Linked DNA regions of Homo sapiens. The protein of the gene in region 2 purifies or fractionates together with the protein of the main gene of each other region. This does not show direct contact. Each region holds a gene or a part of one and is shown on either strand. Other genes may lie near its edges.

The links.
Region 1: the proteins of MTHFD2L (region 2) and ZHX2 purify together in Homo sapiens (affinity purification with mass spectrometry; one large-scale study listed by BioGRID and IntAct). This does not show direct contact.

Annotation. Positions count from the first base shown.
Region 1 is NC_000008.11:122,966,497-122,970,320, forward strand, and holds part of ZHX2 (zinc fingers and homeoboxes protein 2), read left to right. Parts: intron 1-3,824. UniProt on the Homo sapiens protein: Acts as a transcriptional repressor. Represses the promoter activity of the CDC25C gene stimulated by NFYA.
Region 2 is NC_000004.12:74,171,533-74,175,356, reverse strand, and holds part of MTHFD2L (bifunctional methylenetetrahydrofolate dehydrogenase/cyclohydrolase 2, mitochondrial), read right to left. Parts: intron 3,580-3,824; exon of another isoform or gene 1,873-3,579; coding exon of another isoform or gene 1,808-1,872; intron 852-1,807; coding exon 667-851; intron 77-666; coding exon 1-76. UniProt on the Homo sapiens protein: Bifunctional mitochondrial folate-interconverting enzyme that has both NAD/NADP-dependent methylenetetrahydrofolate dehydrogenase and methenyltetrahydrofolate cyclohydrolase activities.

The DNA.
Region 1 (3,824 bases), on a different chromosome or scaffold from region 2:
TTGCAGGGTTTCTACTGAGAAATCTGCTGTGAATCTGATAGGTTTTCCTTTATAGGTTACCTGATGCTTTTGCCTCACAGGTCTTAAGATTCTTTCCTTCATCTTGACTTTAGATAACCTGATGACCATGTGCCTAGGTGATGATCTTTTTGTGATCAATTTCCTGGGTGTTCTTTGAGCTTTTTGTATTTGGATATCTAGATCTCTAGCAAGACCAGGGAAGTTTTCCTTGATTATTCCCTCAAATAAATTTTCTAGACTTTAAGATTTCTCTTCTTCCTCAGAAGCACCATTATTCTCATGTTTGGTCATTTCACGTAATCCCAAATTTCTTGGAGGCTTTGTTCATTTTTTTTAATTAGTTTTTGTCTCTGTCAAGTTGGGTTAATTCAAAAGCCTTGTCTTCAAGCTCTAAAGCTATTTCTTCTACTTGTTTGATCCTGTTGTTAAAACTTTCCAGTGTATTTTGCATTTCTCTAAATGTGTCTTTCATTTCCAGAAGTTGTGACTGTCTTTTCTTTATGATATCTGTTTCTCTAGAGACTTCATCCATATCCTGTATTGTTGTTTCAATGTCTTTAAATTGGTTTTCACCTTTTCCTGGTGCCTCCTTGAGTAGCTGAATAATGAACCTTCTGAATTCTTTTTCTGGCAATTCAGATTTCATCTTGGTTTGAGTCCGTTGCTAGAGAGCCAGTGTGATCTTATGGGAGTGTTTTAGAACCTTGTTTTATCATATTACCAGAATTACTTTTCTGTTTCCTTCTCATTTAGGTAGACTGTTTCAGTGGAAACATCTGGAACTCAAGGGCTGCTGTTCAGGTTCTTTTGTCCCATGGGGTGATCCCTTGATGTGTTGCTCTCCCCCTTTCTCTAGGGATGGGGCTTCCTGAGAGCCAGACTGCAGTGGTAATTATTGCCCTTCTGGGTCTAGCCACCCAGTGGGGCTGCTGGGCTCCAGGCTGGTGCTGGGGAATGTCTGTAAAGAGTCCTGTGATATGATCCATCTTCAGGTCTCCCAGTCTTGGATACCAGCACCTGCTCCAGTGGAGGTGGCATGGGAGTGAAGTGGACTCTGGGAGTCCTTGGTTGTAGTTTTGTTTAGTGCAGTGGTTTTCTCAAATGCTGGTTACACCAGCAGTAAAATTGCCACATGGACAGACTCAGGACCTCTGGTTAGCCAGGATGTTGCAGGCAGTGGCATTAGCTGTTGTTTGCTCCTTTGAAGCAAGGTTGTTCTGTTATGAGTTGCTGTAATGGCTTGAGTTGGTTGGCCTCCAGCCGGGAGGTGGTGCTTTCAGGAAAGCGCCAGCTGCAGTAGTAGAAGGGGATATAATTCTGCCCTACATTGGCCAGGATGAGTACTCGGGTTTCTTAGGCAATGGACAGGACCACAGAACTTCCAAAAGATTATGTCTTTTTTCTTCAGCTACCAGGGCAGGTAGAGACAAACCATCAGGTGGGGGCAGGGTTAGGCGAGTCTGAGCTCAGACTCTCCTTGGGCAGGGCTTCATGTTAGTTTCTTTATTTAGGGCTGATGAGAAGGCGGTGCAGAAAGGTAGCTCGTGCAAGTCTTTGAGGTAAAAAGTGGTGGAGCTGGAATTCAAATCCACCCCTACACCCACACATGTAAGCACTTTGGGGAATCTGCCCAGTGAGTTTAAAATACAATTCCATTTGCTCTGGTTCTATTAAATTCCCCTGGCCAATATGCACTGATAGGCCAGGAGCAGGAAAGGCATTCCTACTGTCTCTGAGCCTCCCTGCAAGCAGCTTGAGGAATATATACCTGGCCTGTGGGTCTCAGCAAGTTCCCCAACCCTAGAGGCCCTTCAAACCACGCAGGGAAGGAGAGCTTTGGCGGGATGTGGCCAAAACTGACTCAAGCCTGGTGTACAGACAATTTGGGATGGCACGGAGTTTTTGTCATCCACTGGGAAGTTGCTTAATCTTCCTCCAGTCCAACACATTTCCCCTTTTTAAATTCTAGTTAAAAATCAGACTGTGCCCCCTACCCTCAATAAAAGAAATGAAAGTTTGAACTCAAATATTATGAGGCAGGCCAGGCACGGTGGCTCATGCCTGTAATCGCAGCACTTTGGGAGGCCAAGGCGGGTGGGTTACCTGAGGTCACAAGTTCAAGACCAGCCTGGCCAACATGGTGAAACCTCATCTCTACTAAAAATACAAAAATTAGCCAGGCATGGTAGTGAGCGCCTATAATCCCAGCTACTTGGGAGGCTGAGGCAGGAGAATCACTTGAACCTGGGAGGCAGAGGTTGCAGTGAGCTGAGATTGCACCAGTGAACTCCAGCCTGGGCAGCAAGAGCAAGACTCCATCTTGGAAAAAAAAAAAAAGAAAAAGAAATATTATGAAGCAGACCAGACACAGTGGCTCACGCATGTAATCTCAGCATTTTGGGAGGCAAAGCCAGGTGGATCACTTGAGGCCAAGAGTTCGAGACCAGCCTGGCGAACATAGTGAAATCCCACCTGTACTAAAAATACAAAAATTAGAGCCGGGTGTGGTGGCACACACCTGTAGTTCCAGCCATTCGGGAGGCTGAGGCATGAGAATTGCTTGAGCCCAGGAGGTGGGGATTGCAGTGAGCCAAGATCATGCCACTGCACTCCAGCCTGGGTGACAGAGCAAGACTCTGTCTCAAAAAAAAAAGAGAGAGAGAGAAATATTATGGAGCAGTACAGAAATAGACAGTGGAGTGATGTTGACCAGGGGATGGGGCAGGGGGATGTGGGGAATTTTCATACAATGGGTGTAAAGTTGCAGTTATACAGATGAGTAACTTCTGGAGGTATGTTGTACAACATAGTGCCTGTAGTTAATAGGAAGATATTTACTTCAAAATGTGTTCAGAGGGCAGATCTCATGTTATATCCTTACCTCCCCACTGCCCCCCCCAAAAATAGACACAAGCAAACTTTATGTTTGTTACTGGATTGTAGTGACAGTAACATGAGTGTATGCATATGCCCAAACTCACTAAATTACATCCATTATGTGCGGCTTTCTGCAAACGAGTTATACGTCAATAAAGCTAGGGCAAAGAGGGAAAAAATGCAACCAGAAAGAAAAGACGTTGCCTACAGAGAAACTACAGTTAAACTGACAGGTTTGTCCGTATCAAAAATAGAAGCCAGATGACAATGGAACAAAATGTTTAGCAGATAACAGGCACTCGGCAAATGAGCAATAAACCTTGCTACACCTCTCAAAAAAAATGTTATGGAGAGATAATCAATCACTCTCTCAGTGTTTGTTTTCCTTTCTCCTGGAGTGCAGTGTTACTCACTCCCAAGTCCCTAGGGCCCTAGAGAAAGTTCTCCTGGGAAAATTAAAGAGAGACAGAAACAGAAAGCTGTCACATGGGAAAACAATTCTAATGTTTTTGTTTCTCCAATGAGGAAAGTAACAGAGAAGCAGATTTTGCTAAAGAATTAGTACTTCTTAACATTCCAGGTTTTCCCCAAGACAGAAAGGGAGGGTGGGAGGCAGTGGGTTCCTGTCCTGGGACGTGTTCACCGAGAGCCTGGACATCACGTGGTAGAAATGTCCCAGAGGCCATAAGGAAATGCCTGTCCGATGGCCTTGCAGCATCCTCCAGGGCTCTGAGAGGTACTCTAGGATGAGGCACTGGCCCTTTGCTGGGTGACTGTCTCTGACCAGGTAATAGGACTCTGAGAGAAGCCCAGGGGAGTTAGCAAGAGCCACACAGCCCAAAGCACTGCAATGCTCTATAGAACAGCAATCCTGAAATGTGGACTTTGTCACCACCCTTGGGTCACAGCCACTCCTCTGACAGCAC
Region 2 (3,824 bases):
TTCAATTGATCAGTTACGTCCAAAAGTTCTTCCTGAGAAACATCCTTAGGTTTTAGAATGAGCTCACTACAAATACCTAGAAGAAAAACAGGTAGAGAAGGTCACTTGACTAACTGAATATGGTTTTTCATCAATAGTGTCTGACACAGTGTGGGACTGTTCCTACTGCCGTGAAAGGTTCTGATGTTCCATGCATCATCAGGAAGGATTTCTCCAATAGTACAGGTGTTTCCTCTTGATCCACATGTATTCTTTGGCCTGGAATGCCAGGTGACAATTTGTACTTGTTTGAGATAAGCTACTGTTAGTAGATTTGAAGAGAATAAAAATATCACTACCATGCAACTATTAGGCCAAGTTTAACAGAGTGAACAAGCCAGGTTTATTATTTGATTAAAGCAAATATAATGAAAGCAGGCCTTTTAGATGCAAACTATCCTTTGCATATCTTGCCATAGAATATAAAACACACTGAATTAACCCTATAAGAAATTTGAAGAAAAATCATATGAAATTAACATAAGCTTTGGTAACTGAATAATCTTTAATAATAATACATGCAATTCAAATGGCACTTATTTGATAATTATCATTCATAATTATCACAATTTGAAGTAAAAACAGAAAACATATTTAGTAGTAATTACAACTAAAACACACACCCACCTACAGCAGAGGCAGCTCTTATCTTATTCCTGACATATGTATGGCTTGCTGGGTTATCTCCCACTAAAATTATACTGAGGTGAGGTCTTCTGTTTCCAAGGGAAACCCATGATTCCACACCTCGCTGTATTTCTTTCTGGATATGCTTGGCCATTTCGGTTCCTGATATAATAATGGCTTCATGTCTGTGGAAAGCAAAACAATAAATACTAAAAAGAAAATAAGAAACACTCAACTGCACAAATTTAAGGTACAAAACTCAATAAAACCACCATGATTCTCCAAGCACCCAAAATTTGATTTTTTTTTCAATTATAGTGACACCTACTCTTCAGGTTCATAAATATTTTATAATTTTGTGAAGGATTCCAACTCTGTTATTTAGTTCTACAGTATAATCTATCTGCTATAAAATGAATGTGTATGTCTCTTCAAAATTCCTATGTTGAAATCCTAACCCCAAATGTTATGGTATTAGGAGGTAGGTCCTTTGGGTGGTGATTACACCATGAGGATAGAGCCCTCATAAGTGGTATTAGTGTCCTTTTAAGAAATTCCAGAGATCTCCCTTGTGCCTTCTGCCATGTGAGGACATAGCACGAAGACAGCTATCTATTAACCAAAAAGCAGGCCCACACCAGACACTGAACCTTCTGGTGTACTGACCTTGGACTTCCCAGTCTACAAAACTATAAGAAATTCATTTGTTTTTGTATAAGCCAACCAGTGTACAGTATTCTGTTATAGCAGCTCAAATAGACTAAGATGCTAACGACAGTGTACATTTCTTCACAACTTTCACATACATATATAAAACATATATATTATATACACATATGCATACATATGTATATACATATACACACATTTATGTATTCATATAAATTATCAAACCACATACTCAAGATCTGGACTATAATATTGCCTAAATTTAAAGTTCTGCTATTTTTTCTAAAGAGGCAGATCAATCAGCACAGCCTAGTTAAAACTGGCAACCATCTTGAAGACTGGACTCCACTATGTATACACGTAGCCCCACAATCTTGTGACCCTAAGGCGAAATCAGTTCGTTTTTGGTTAGCATATCCAGCACAAGACTCTGAAGTCATGAGCTTCATACTACACAACTCTTTTAACTTACTCAAAGAAAAATGTTATTCCATGGCCCCAGGCATGGCCCCGGACAACAGCTGTGAGTCTTGCCATGCTTGTCACTGATTATGGTGGGGATCAGGTCAGTAAACCGATAGTTTAGTTCCTTCCCAATGCAATGGCATCATTTCTAATGGAGTAAGTTTCCACAGAAGATTACTTCCTGGCAGTTTATAAGTATTTCAGAAGGTAAGAAGTGCCATAATTTGATAGATGATATAAACTATCTCTGGAAAGGCACAAAGAAATACTTTCTAGAAAGGCTTTTCTGCTCTCCATGACCTCAAACTTGAAAGTGGTGAATTACATTGCTCTTACTGTGTGTTTATTTTTTTAAAGGTATCTGATAAAGTAGAAGGTGGTCCCTTCTTCCTTCTGCCCCTGTCCTTTCATTATTGAATGGCCCGGTAAAAACATGATTACTACAAAAAACATCAAATGTAGGTAAATAAATATTATGAAAAGGAGGAAAAGGGAAAGAGTAAGAAGCAGAAGAGAAAGAGGAGGAGGAAAGGAAGCCCTTATAAACCTTAATTCTTTGTGGTATCTGTACACTTTTAATTTTCTAATGAGGGCGGGTGCTATAAATATCCGACAACACACAAAATGCAAACTTTGTGCTCCTTCCAAATAAGTCAACTGCTCTCTCTAGCAGGTTTGTGGACGTATAGGTAGAACTTGATCGAAAATACACCATTATAGCATGGCACCAGTCTTCCACTGCATTCATCTCAGTTCATGCAATTTTGATGTAAACAATGTTCTGCTAAGAAGCAATTCCAAGCGTGGTCTATGGATACACACATCAAAAACTGCCTGAAATTGCAGATTCCCAGACCCCACAATCCACATCTACAATTCAGAATTCCTGGGGGCAGGGGAAAAACCTGGAAATCTGCATGTCTAATAATTTCCTACATGTGATTCTTGTGTATGACCATGTTTGAAAACCACTTTAGTTTACCATAAAAGTGTATTTTAATAACAATCATAATTTATGAGTAAATAACTGAGCAAATTGGTTAGACAATACAATCACAACTAGACATTCTAAGTAAACTCTACTTTTGATTCTAATTTTGTCTACTCTTCATTAAAATTTTAATAGCTTTCAAGACATGAAATGTCATGATGAATTCAATATAATAATCTTGTTCTGCTGTCTTATTTCTGTAAAAGATTTATTCAGTATAATTGTCATATAATAAACTGGACATATTTAACATGTACAAGTTTAAGTTTTAATATATGTATATACCTGAGAAACCATCACTATAGTCAAGAAAATGAACATGTCTATCATTCCCAAAACTTTCCAGGTGCACCTTTAAAATTTTGCCATTCCACCTGTCTCTGCCAGATTCCACTCCTCAATTCACCATTCCAGGCAACCATTGACCTCTTTTGTTCAGTATATATTGGTTTGTATTATGAATAATTTTATAAAAATTGAATCAAATACTACATACTCTTTTTTGGCCAGCTATTTCCACTCAGCATAATTATTTTTTAATTGATTCACATAGTTGCATGTTTGAATGGTTCATTTCTTTTTTATTGCTGAGTAGTATTACATTGTATGGATATACCAATATTTGTTTATCCATTCGATTGTAATTAATGGATATTCGGGTTCTTTCCAGTTTTTGATCATGACAAATACAGCTGTTACAAACATTTTATAACACATATGCTTTAATATATTTTGTACACATATGCTTTAAAATATTTTTTTTGTGGGGGACAGGGTCTCCATCACCCAGGCTGCAGTTCAGTGGCAAGATCTCGGCTCACTACAACCTCCGCCTCCTGGGTTCAAATGATTCTGATGCCTCAGCCTCCAGAGTAGCTGGAATTACAGACATATGCCACCATGCCTGACTAATTTTTGTATATTTAGTAGAGACGGGGTTTCGCTATGTTGGCCAGGCTGGTCTCGAACTCCTGGCTGCAAGTGATCTGCCCCTCTTGGCCTCCCAAAATGCTGGGACTACAGGTGTGAGCCA